Linked DNA regions of Homo sapiens: region 2 is linked to region 1. Evidence: fine-mapped expression QTL. Tissue or cell type: whole blood. Region 1 holds a variant in brackets; the other region holds the start of a gene. All regions are shown on one strand. Distances are from middle to middle.

Region 1 (4,402 bases):
CAGAAGAGTGTTGTTTCAGTATGCAAGGGAAGAATGGACTTCAGGAAGCTAAGGTTCAAGGGATGCAGCCATATTGAGTGAGATGAAGACTGGGAAGAAAAGTTTCCGAATTGGGCGGCAGCTATACAGCATGGGTGTCTTTAGTGAGAGCAATTTCAGAAAAGTAGCAAGACAGAAAAATTGCAGAGTTGAAAAAATGAATGATAAATGAACATATAGATAGTGTGTGAGGCCAGTTCTTTCATAATTGTCAGTATAGAAAAGGGGAAAGACTGGATGACAAGTTCAAGGAGATGCAGGGTTGAGGGAAGAATGTTTGTAGGGAGCAGCATTGTTGGGAGCAGAGTAAGGATCTGATTATTACACTGAAGTGTTGAGGAAGCAAACAAACAAAAAAAAAGAAAACAAACTGAATGTCAGTAAGTAGAAGAAAGGTTGGATAAATTATGGCATGTTTATACAACTGAATATTACGTAACCTTTAAAAGGAATAAATTGGATCCAAAGTAGTGACCTGGAAAAGCATCCATGTTAATTAGAAAGATGTAAAAGAACATTGCAGACCAATAAGTATATGCTAATTATATTTTAATAAATATTAGCTGACACCCTTGTATCTATATAAATGCAAGAAATATTAAGAAAGGATGTGTACCCAGTTGCCAACAGTGGTGATCTCTGGGGGATGAGGATGGGAAGGGGACTTTAGCTTATTGCTTCTTAGAATTTTAAAGAGAGGTGGTGACATTAGGAATGACTTTTACACATTGGATTTAAAATATTTTTCAGACAAACATTAAAGAAAACCCTCTCATACAATGATGAGATAATTTAACTTTATATAATTAACTACAGAATTCAAAGAAGAAAATAACATAAACGAACACATTTGCTTTAATAAGTTATTGGGCTTGTATTTAAAGCTGAAGCAAAAACATTTGCTCAGATGTGATATTGAGTTCAAGGTGAATTAAAGGTTTTTCCTTTTCTTTTTTTCTTTTTTTTTTTTGACACGGAGTCTTGCTCTGTCACCAGACTCGAGTGCAGTGGCGTGATCTCAGCTCACTACAACCTCTGCCTCCCAGGTTCAAGCTATTCTCCTGCCTCAGACTCCCAAGTAATTGGGACTACAGGTGTGCTCCACCATGCCCAGCTAATTTTTGTACTTTTGGGAGAGACAGGGTTTCACCATGATGGTTTGTTTTTCTTAATTCTGGAAGATGAGGCCAATATTTGTTTGAAGAGTGATTTAAAATAGCTGAAATTCAGTCAAAAACTTAATTTACTGGGTTGTACCTCTTTATTATGAAGTATTGGTTGCTTTTAAAATGAGCTAGAGGCCAGACATGGTAGCTCACATCTATAATCTTAACACTTTCGGAGACAAAGGCAACAAGATTGCTTGAGCTCAGGAGTTCAAGATCAGCCTAGGAAACATAGCGAGACTTTGGCTGTACTAACAATAGAAAAATTAGTCAGGCATGGTGGTGTCTGGAGGCTGAACTGGGAGGATCACCTGAGCCAGGGAGATCAAGGCTGCAGTGAGCTATGATCACGCCACTGCACTCCAGCCTGGGTGACAGAATGAGACGTTGCCTCAAAAAGAAATAAAAAGAGCTAGAAGTGACCTTGGTGATCTATTTGGTAATATTTCTTTTGTCTAAAGTATGTTTTTAAAATATATATACAATTAGTAACTAGCTAATAGTTAATAAATATGTCTATTTTTAGAAAAATTTATTATTTTATTTTCTATTTTTGAGACAAGGTCTCACTCTGTCACCCAGGCTGGAGTGCAGTGGCATGATCACAGTTCTCTGCAGCCTCGACCTCCTGGGCTCAAGCAATCCTCCCACCTCAGCTTCCCAAGTAGCTAGGACTACAGGCATGTGCCACCATGCCAGTTAATTTTTTAATTTTTTGTAGAGATGAGGTCTTGCTATGCTGCCCAGGCTGGTCTTGAACTCCTGGGCTCAAGGGATCCTTTTGGTTCAGCCTCCCAAAGTGTTGGGATTATAGGAGTGAGCCACTGTGCCTGGCCAAAAATGATTTTATATGGAACACTTAGAAGCAGGGTGCTGGAATTAGCAAAAAACAGTTTTCAAGTTAAACGTAGTTTAGTAATCAGAATTGTATTGACAGTAACAGATTCATTGTAAAATA[G/C]AAATGCTCCTATATTCATACATTAGTTTAAGTAAGTTAAATAATCTGTAAACCAACTTTCTTGGATTGAATTCTGAGGTCAAGCCAGGTTAATAGAAGGGTCAGGGAAGATAGGAAAGCCATAAATATGGTTCTTAAAGCTTGTGGGCACAAGAACTCTTGGAATGAAGGTAGATAGGGGAAGTATTTGTAAAGGGAAGTGAGAAGATGTCAGGAAAGTCCTGCAAGTGGGTACCTGAATCATGGCATTACCAGTGGTTTAGCATATCAGAACCTCAGCCCAGAGTTTCACCATCTAGTCTCTGGTCCCATCCCGAAGCCAGAAAGAACATAAGGAAAAAGAGGAGATGTGAATAACAAGTCTCTCCTCCAATTTCCTCTCACCCCATCTTTATTACCAATTACCAGTGGAAAGCAAAATGATATATGCAGAACACCCCATCTCAAAGCCCTAAAGGTGGTTAAATGAGTAGACTACTCACCAACTCCTTACTGAGCACTTCCTATAGTAAGTATGATAAGTGATGAGGATTTAACGATAAAAGACACTGTTCATGCCCTCGAGAGACTGCCCACGGTGGGGTGGAGGGTGATTTGGAAATAAATCATACTGCAGTGTGAAAACAGGAATATTAGGTATATTCTACCAAGTACAAGCTGAACACAGAAAAAAAGACCTACTGATTGCTGTGGCGGTTGGAGGAGCTTCCTAGAAGAAGAAAGGACACTTGTGCTAGGACTTGAAGGCAGAAGAAAGGTGGGAGAGGAGAAGATGGGAGGAGATAGGTTCAGGGAACAGCCTAGGCAAAGGTGTGGAGGGTTGTGGGGAGAGAGCGGGAGAGTGGATGAGGAAGGAAGGCTTGAATGTGGCTTGGCTTATATTTGAAGGACTTTGAGACTCGCTGTGGAGTATTATGTTCTGCTGTGGTCATCCTATTAAACCCTGACTACATCCATTGATTTTTTTTCCTATTTAAAATTTCCTATTTAAAATATTTCCTTCCAAACATTTTTTAATTTCAAGGTCTTTATGTAAGATGAGATGTGATCCAACAACTATACTAGCCCACATGTGAAATGACAAGGCAGAAACCACAATACAGAAAATAAAATAAAACAGCCTTAATTTAAATATTTAAAGTAGAGCTGTCTAGATTTTCAGAAAGCAATAATGTGTCTCCTGGAAATTGACTGATATGTTTTTTGACACTGTTAGTTTCAGTTATTTTTCAAGGCATCACTAAACCCTGGAAGAGAACAGTCTTAATTTATAGTTTAAGTAGGTTTATTTAAGGGGAAAAAGAAAATTGCAAGATGTCATTTTATTTCCATTCCAAAAATAAGCATAACATTATCATAGAAGCCTCTTTGAAAGTAGAACTTCATTAATTGGGACTCCACTGAGGAAAATTTTTCCATAATCTCATCAGTTTTGCCTTTGCTTAGCAAACCATCATTTTATGATTATCATAAACCAATAATAAACTAGGCATATTGGAATTATATTTACAATATGAAAGACAGCACTTTTCATTCAACCTCATCAATCTTGGAAACCTATTTTTTCATTAAATAAATATTTCTGAAATCACTAAAATGTGCCTGGTGACATTCTACATACTGGGGATATATAGCTGTCCCTTGGTATCCAGGGGAATTGGTTCCAGTACCCCCTCAGATACCAAAATCCATGGATGCTGAAGTCCTTGATAGAAAATGATGTAGTATTTGTGTATAACCTACACACATCCTACCCTATACTTCAAATCATCTCTACATTATTCATCATATCTAATACAATGTAAATGATATGTAAACAATGTTATACTGTATTATTTTTTAATTTGTATTATTGTTTACTGTTACGTATTTTCTTGAAATATTTTCAATTCATGGTTGGTTAAATCTGTAGATGTAGAACCCTTGGATATGAAGGGTGGACTGTGGGGTTGAACAAGACATGCTAAATCCCTGCCTATTAGGAGTTTATATTTTGATGCGAGGAGAAAGATAATAAATATGAAAACATAAAAAGATAATTTGAAGGACCCAAGAAATGCTCTAAATAAAGTAATTTAAAAGTGTGACTGGGGCTAAGGTTTTGTGTGGAGGTGATATTTAAGTTAGACCTGAGTGGTGAGAAGGTGTCAGATGTAAAGATCCACTAGGAATTACATTATAAGTGGAATGAACAAAGGAGCAAAGACCCTGAGACAGGTTTAGTTAACAAAAAAGAAGA
Region 2 (4,402 bases), 41 kb before region 1:
GAAAAGGGATGGGAGGGAGAGGGGGAGGGAGAGGGGAGGAGGAGGGAGAGAAAGAGACAGAGGCATAACAAGTCTCACATTCCAGAAATATCTCTTCCTCAATGCCCCAACTCTGGCAACTTTTGTCATGTTCAGAGTGGGTGCAGGCGGGGAAAAGAGGAAATGCCTAAAGAAGTTGCTCACATTAAGGATGGTTTGTTGGCTAGGAGTCAGAAAGACTAAGCTGGAAGGGACTGCGTTCCAGCCTTGCTTTGGGCTCTGTCACATATTACTGCCCATCCTGGTGGTAGGGGGTGTTGCTGTGAGCTCCCTGGGAGCTACGTCTACAGATAGTTCCTGATGAGGCAGACAATGGTGGCCTAAGCAAAGTTCAACCAGAAGGTGAGAGTGAGTAGGGGTGGGCTATAGCACAGGCTTCATACTCACCAGCAGCTGGTCATGACGTAGAGTAACCAAAGGTACAGGAAAACCAATGTGATAACATAGAACACTTTTCATCTATTACCTCAGTCACGCCTAGCAGTCACCCATCAGCCACCAGCTTGTTCTATCAGATAACCAGTAGGGTGGATGGCACAAGCCCAGGAAGGCAGCTGGGATCCAGTTGGTGGTAGTCTGGAATGTCCAATTTGGGTTGATGGCCGGGTTAAGATATCAGTTTTGTCTTGCAGTGGTAATACCCAAATAGCTTACCATAAGTACATGGGTATCAGGACACAGCCAGCATAAAGTATGAAGCCCAATCAGTTATTTGTGAAAATGTATCAAGATTCTTTGTGGTACAGAACCACTTAAATTGGGAGAAGAGCATGGTCACAGATAGGGTCCAAGCCATGCAAAGAAAGGCAGTATGGTACACTATATCTATAGTATCATACGCTTGGCATAGAAGCCGTAGAAGGCCATGCACTTGAAACATGTTAACACAATGCAGAAAAGCATGAAGGCCCAGAGGAAGAATGGCACAGGCAGGTAAGCCAACAATCTTGCAACCGATTACTGAAGATTTAGAACCAAAGGAAAAGATAATCCACAGTATGAAGAGAAAGCAGATGGAAGACTGCATGCTGTTGGCCAAGCATAGGTCCAAGAGGAGGTGGTAAGGAAACTTGTGCAGAAGCTTCTCACAGGACAGAGATTAGCCAGACTGGAACCTGAAGGATCTGGCGCTCTCCACTGGCTGCCTTGGTGGGCCTCGAATTCCTCTACGGGGCCCTTCACCCATCAGGTAGTATTGTAGGGGATTGGGCCACAGTTCTCCTTTGATAATCTCTGCAATTCTGTCGAATTCTAGAAGGCTGTGGTCTGAAAACCAGTTGAAGAAACTAGGGATAGTGTTCCCTTCCCGGTTTCTGTGGATATGAGCCTGGGGGTCTTGGCCTCGGTGCCAGCGGATTGGAGTGGAAAGAGACACCACCCGGCCAGAGGATCTGCGTTCATATTCCTTGACAAGCCCCTCATTTCGGAAGTAGGGGTTGCCCTGAAAGATGAACTTGAATTTGCAGCCTGCTCTGGGGTGTTTAAGCTCCTCCACCTCCAAATTGATCATGTACCTCAGCATGTCTTCATCTTGGCCACTGATCATAGGTGACAGCTGGGGGTGGTTTCGAAAGGCAGTAACCCAGAAACCTGGGATATTCTGGATAATGAAACTTCTGCGCTGCATGTGGAGCCTTCGCATGCGGCCAAACTTGCGCTCAAGCTGAAGGAAGGCCCTGTCAGCCTGGGCATTTACGTTTGACAACTCTTGATCGATGGCCTCCAGTGAGTCCATGCAGTTATTGATCTTCGGGGCCCTGGGCCGTGTCTCCTCTTTCACCCCTCCTGCCACCTTTTTTTCCTTCTGCACTACCTTCTTTTCCTCCATCGCCGCCCCTGCTTCTCCCTCCTTTTCCACTGCTGCCGAGATGGCGCGTTTTTTAGTCGTCACTTCCTTGGCCTTCTTCCCCGGTATCATCTGAGACCCCAAGCCCCCTGCGCCACAGGCTTCTAGAGCCTTCTGCCCAGCAGGGCCACGGGGCTCTCCAAGCTGACAGCCATTTTTCTGGCTGCTGTCAGCAGCCTCGGCGGCAGAGGCTGCTTCCAGACCTTTCGTAGAAGGTGGAGCATCCTCCTGCCCGGCTTTGGTCGCTGCACCGCCGCGACTCCCGGCAACTGGGACGCGGAGCGCGGGGCCACAGTCGACAGGATCCTGGGATGCACCCCCCTCCGCAACGGTCTCCAGGCTGCCCCCACCTGTGTTCGCCATCACCTGTGTCGCCTCGGTTTCTTCACGGAGCCCTTGGCACTGGTCTCGGTCCGGATCTCCTGAGGCATGGTCGGGAGCAGCCAGGCCGCCGGTTTGGGCGAGAGGGAGCTTGTTGCCCCCATCCAGGCCGCTCATTTTGGAAGAAGTCAGACTAGTGGGAGAGGGAGAGTTCCTTGTCCTCCGCAGCGGCCGAGCTCTGCCCGAAACGTCTAGCACCACCCCTCCTTTACTCTCGGCGGTGCTACCATGGCAACTGGTGATGTCAGGGCGGTAGCGTCGTAACATCGCGCGAGAACTCTCTGCGCGGTTGACTACGCTTATCAATCCATCGTATTCCTTTGTCTTCTTGTCACAAAAAGAATTTCGTCAGTCTGGAAGGGGAGTTTTACTTACGTAAATGGATGTAGACCAGACTCAAGCATGTAAGAACTGTGTTAATGTGGATTTCTAAGCCTCTGAATGAATTTCTAAGGCACCTAACCTATTGTTTCTGAAAATATTTACTTTAAGGTGAGTTACTGTCTATTCAAGTCAGTTCATAGGGCTTCTCCTGAGTAGGAAAGTGGATTCACGAACTCACAGGCCTTCCTTCTTTTAAGGTGTGGATTCATGGCTATTACCAAAGAATTTAAATGAGCAGAGTTTGATTTTAAAGAGAAGTGTTGCTGTGTTGTTATTTTTAAAATTAAGGAGCAGCTGAAAGGCAAACTTCTCTCATCCTAACAAGACATAATAAAGGAATATTTCAATTTGTCTTACAGATTTTAAAGTTTATATAATTTGGCCAACATCTACAAAACAAGTGGACAATATTTCCTCTTCACTTTTAACAAAGAGTAGCAAAATGTTTTTCCTTACGTAGAGGTGACTGGCACACGAGCACAAATTTAGGCTTTTAAGCATTACTGAAAGAAATATCTCAGGGGATTTTAATTTCTAAACTGATGCATATGTTCTTTTCCTCAGGTTACAATCTTAATCTAAAAGTGGTTCCTGCTTCATAATGCCTGTGGACATGAAGCTAACAAATCTTTTCAAAATGTGTTCATGTGGTAATTCACTGCAGCACAGGAGCAATAATCAGCTATGTGCAGGCATCTATGCTACTGTCTCTTAAAATACTTTAAAAGTAAGGTTAGTTATTGTCTATTCGAGTCAGTTAGCTCTTACAATTCATTTGATAGTGATTATCAGTACAATATATTAGTTTGTTGGAGTGTGAGAATAATGGTGTTAATCCTTAGAAAAATGCAAGACCAAAGGGAAATTTAAATTTTGCATATTTATGTTTAATGTCAAATTTATATTCAAATAAACGGTTATGATTATAACTCTTTGTAAAAGAAACTCCATTTTAAGCCCCCCAGATTATGATCACTTTCAAATACAGGCTCAGAAGTACAGATTTAGAGAAAAAGGATTCCTCTTAGAGGAATACATCATATATACTGAGACTTCTAGCGAGGGAAGGAGTGTAGTTCTGGTTCAACTAAGATAAAGTACTGATGAAAGGTCACTGGCAGACAATACGGAGAAACAGCCTGCCTTGCAGGATTTTTTGTATGCCTAGTCAGCCTACCCAAGGACAATGTGTCCAGAATGACCTCTTTACTGCCTGCCAGCTAATCAGTTATCCCATAAGAAATATGCAAACAAGATTCACACAGCAGAGAGCAATTATTTTTCTCTCCCTCTTTCCTCTTTGTCTTAATAAACGCTCTTTTTTTATTTGTGGGGTGAAATCAATCTATTGAGGTATCGTCTTTGTAAACACATAAACAGCGTGCTATAATTGACTTTGTGACTTTGAATTATTGACACTGCTCTGTTTCTTTTCCAAAGAACCTTTGCACTGTTGAAAGAGTAACTTTTCCATTATAACCTGAGTCAAGATGAAGAGAAGCAGGGAATACTGAATGAAAGTTACTTTTCCATGCAGCAGGAAAAAACAAGTTTGCTACTATACAAATTTATAGAAAAGTATAAAATTACATGTGAACTTCTTTTTCTTTTTGTGTGTGCCAAAGTTTTTTAAAGATTTATATCTCTACTACTCAAAGCATTCCCATCTCTAGCCTGTATTAGTTCTGTCACCTGAATCATTTTTCACTCATAACCACCTGGCCATTCTTTAACACTCAGTTCATGTAGATT

What was found. PIP is the estimated chance that this variant, and not a neighbour inherited with it, causes the effect. A credible set is the group of variants that fine-mapping cannot tell apart.
Region 2: it holds the start of TSPYL4, and the variant in region 1 is the best candidate, but not a certain one, in a credible set for the expression of TSPYL4 in whole blood (INTERVAL, PIP 0.53).

The regions. Positions count from the first base shown.
Region 1 is chr6:116,292,282-116,296,683 of GRCh38, forward strand. It overlaps a transcript of DSE not described here. Among named protein-coding and RNA genes, the nearest start is that of TSPYL1, 15 kb to the left of the region's middle. The variant G/C (reference allele first, on the strand shown) is at 2,164.
Region 2 is chr6:116,251,626-116,256,027 of GRCh38, forward strand. It overlaps TSPYL4 (TSPY like 4), which reads right to left and starts at 2,450. Exons shown (of 1, transcript NM_021648.5): 1 at 1-2,450. The coding sequence starts at 2,383. The coding sequence ends at 1,139. It also overlaps a transcript of DSE not described here. RefSeq lists enhancers at 2,022-2,181, 2,592-2,821.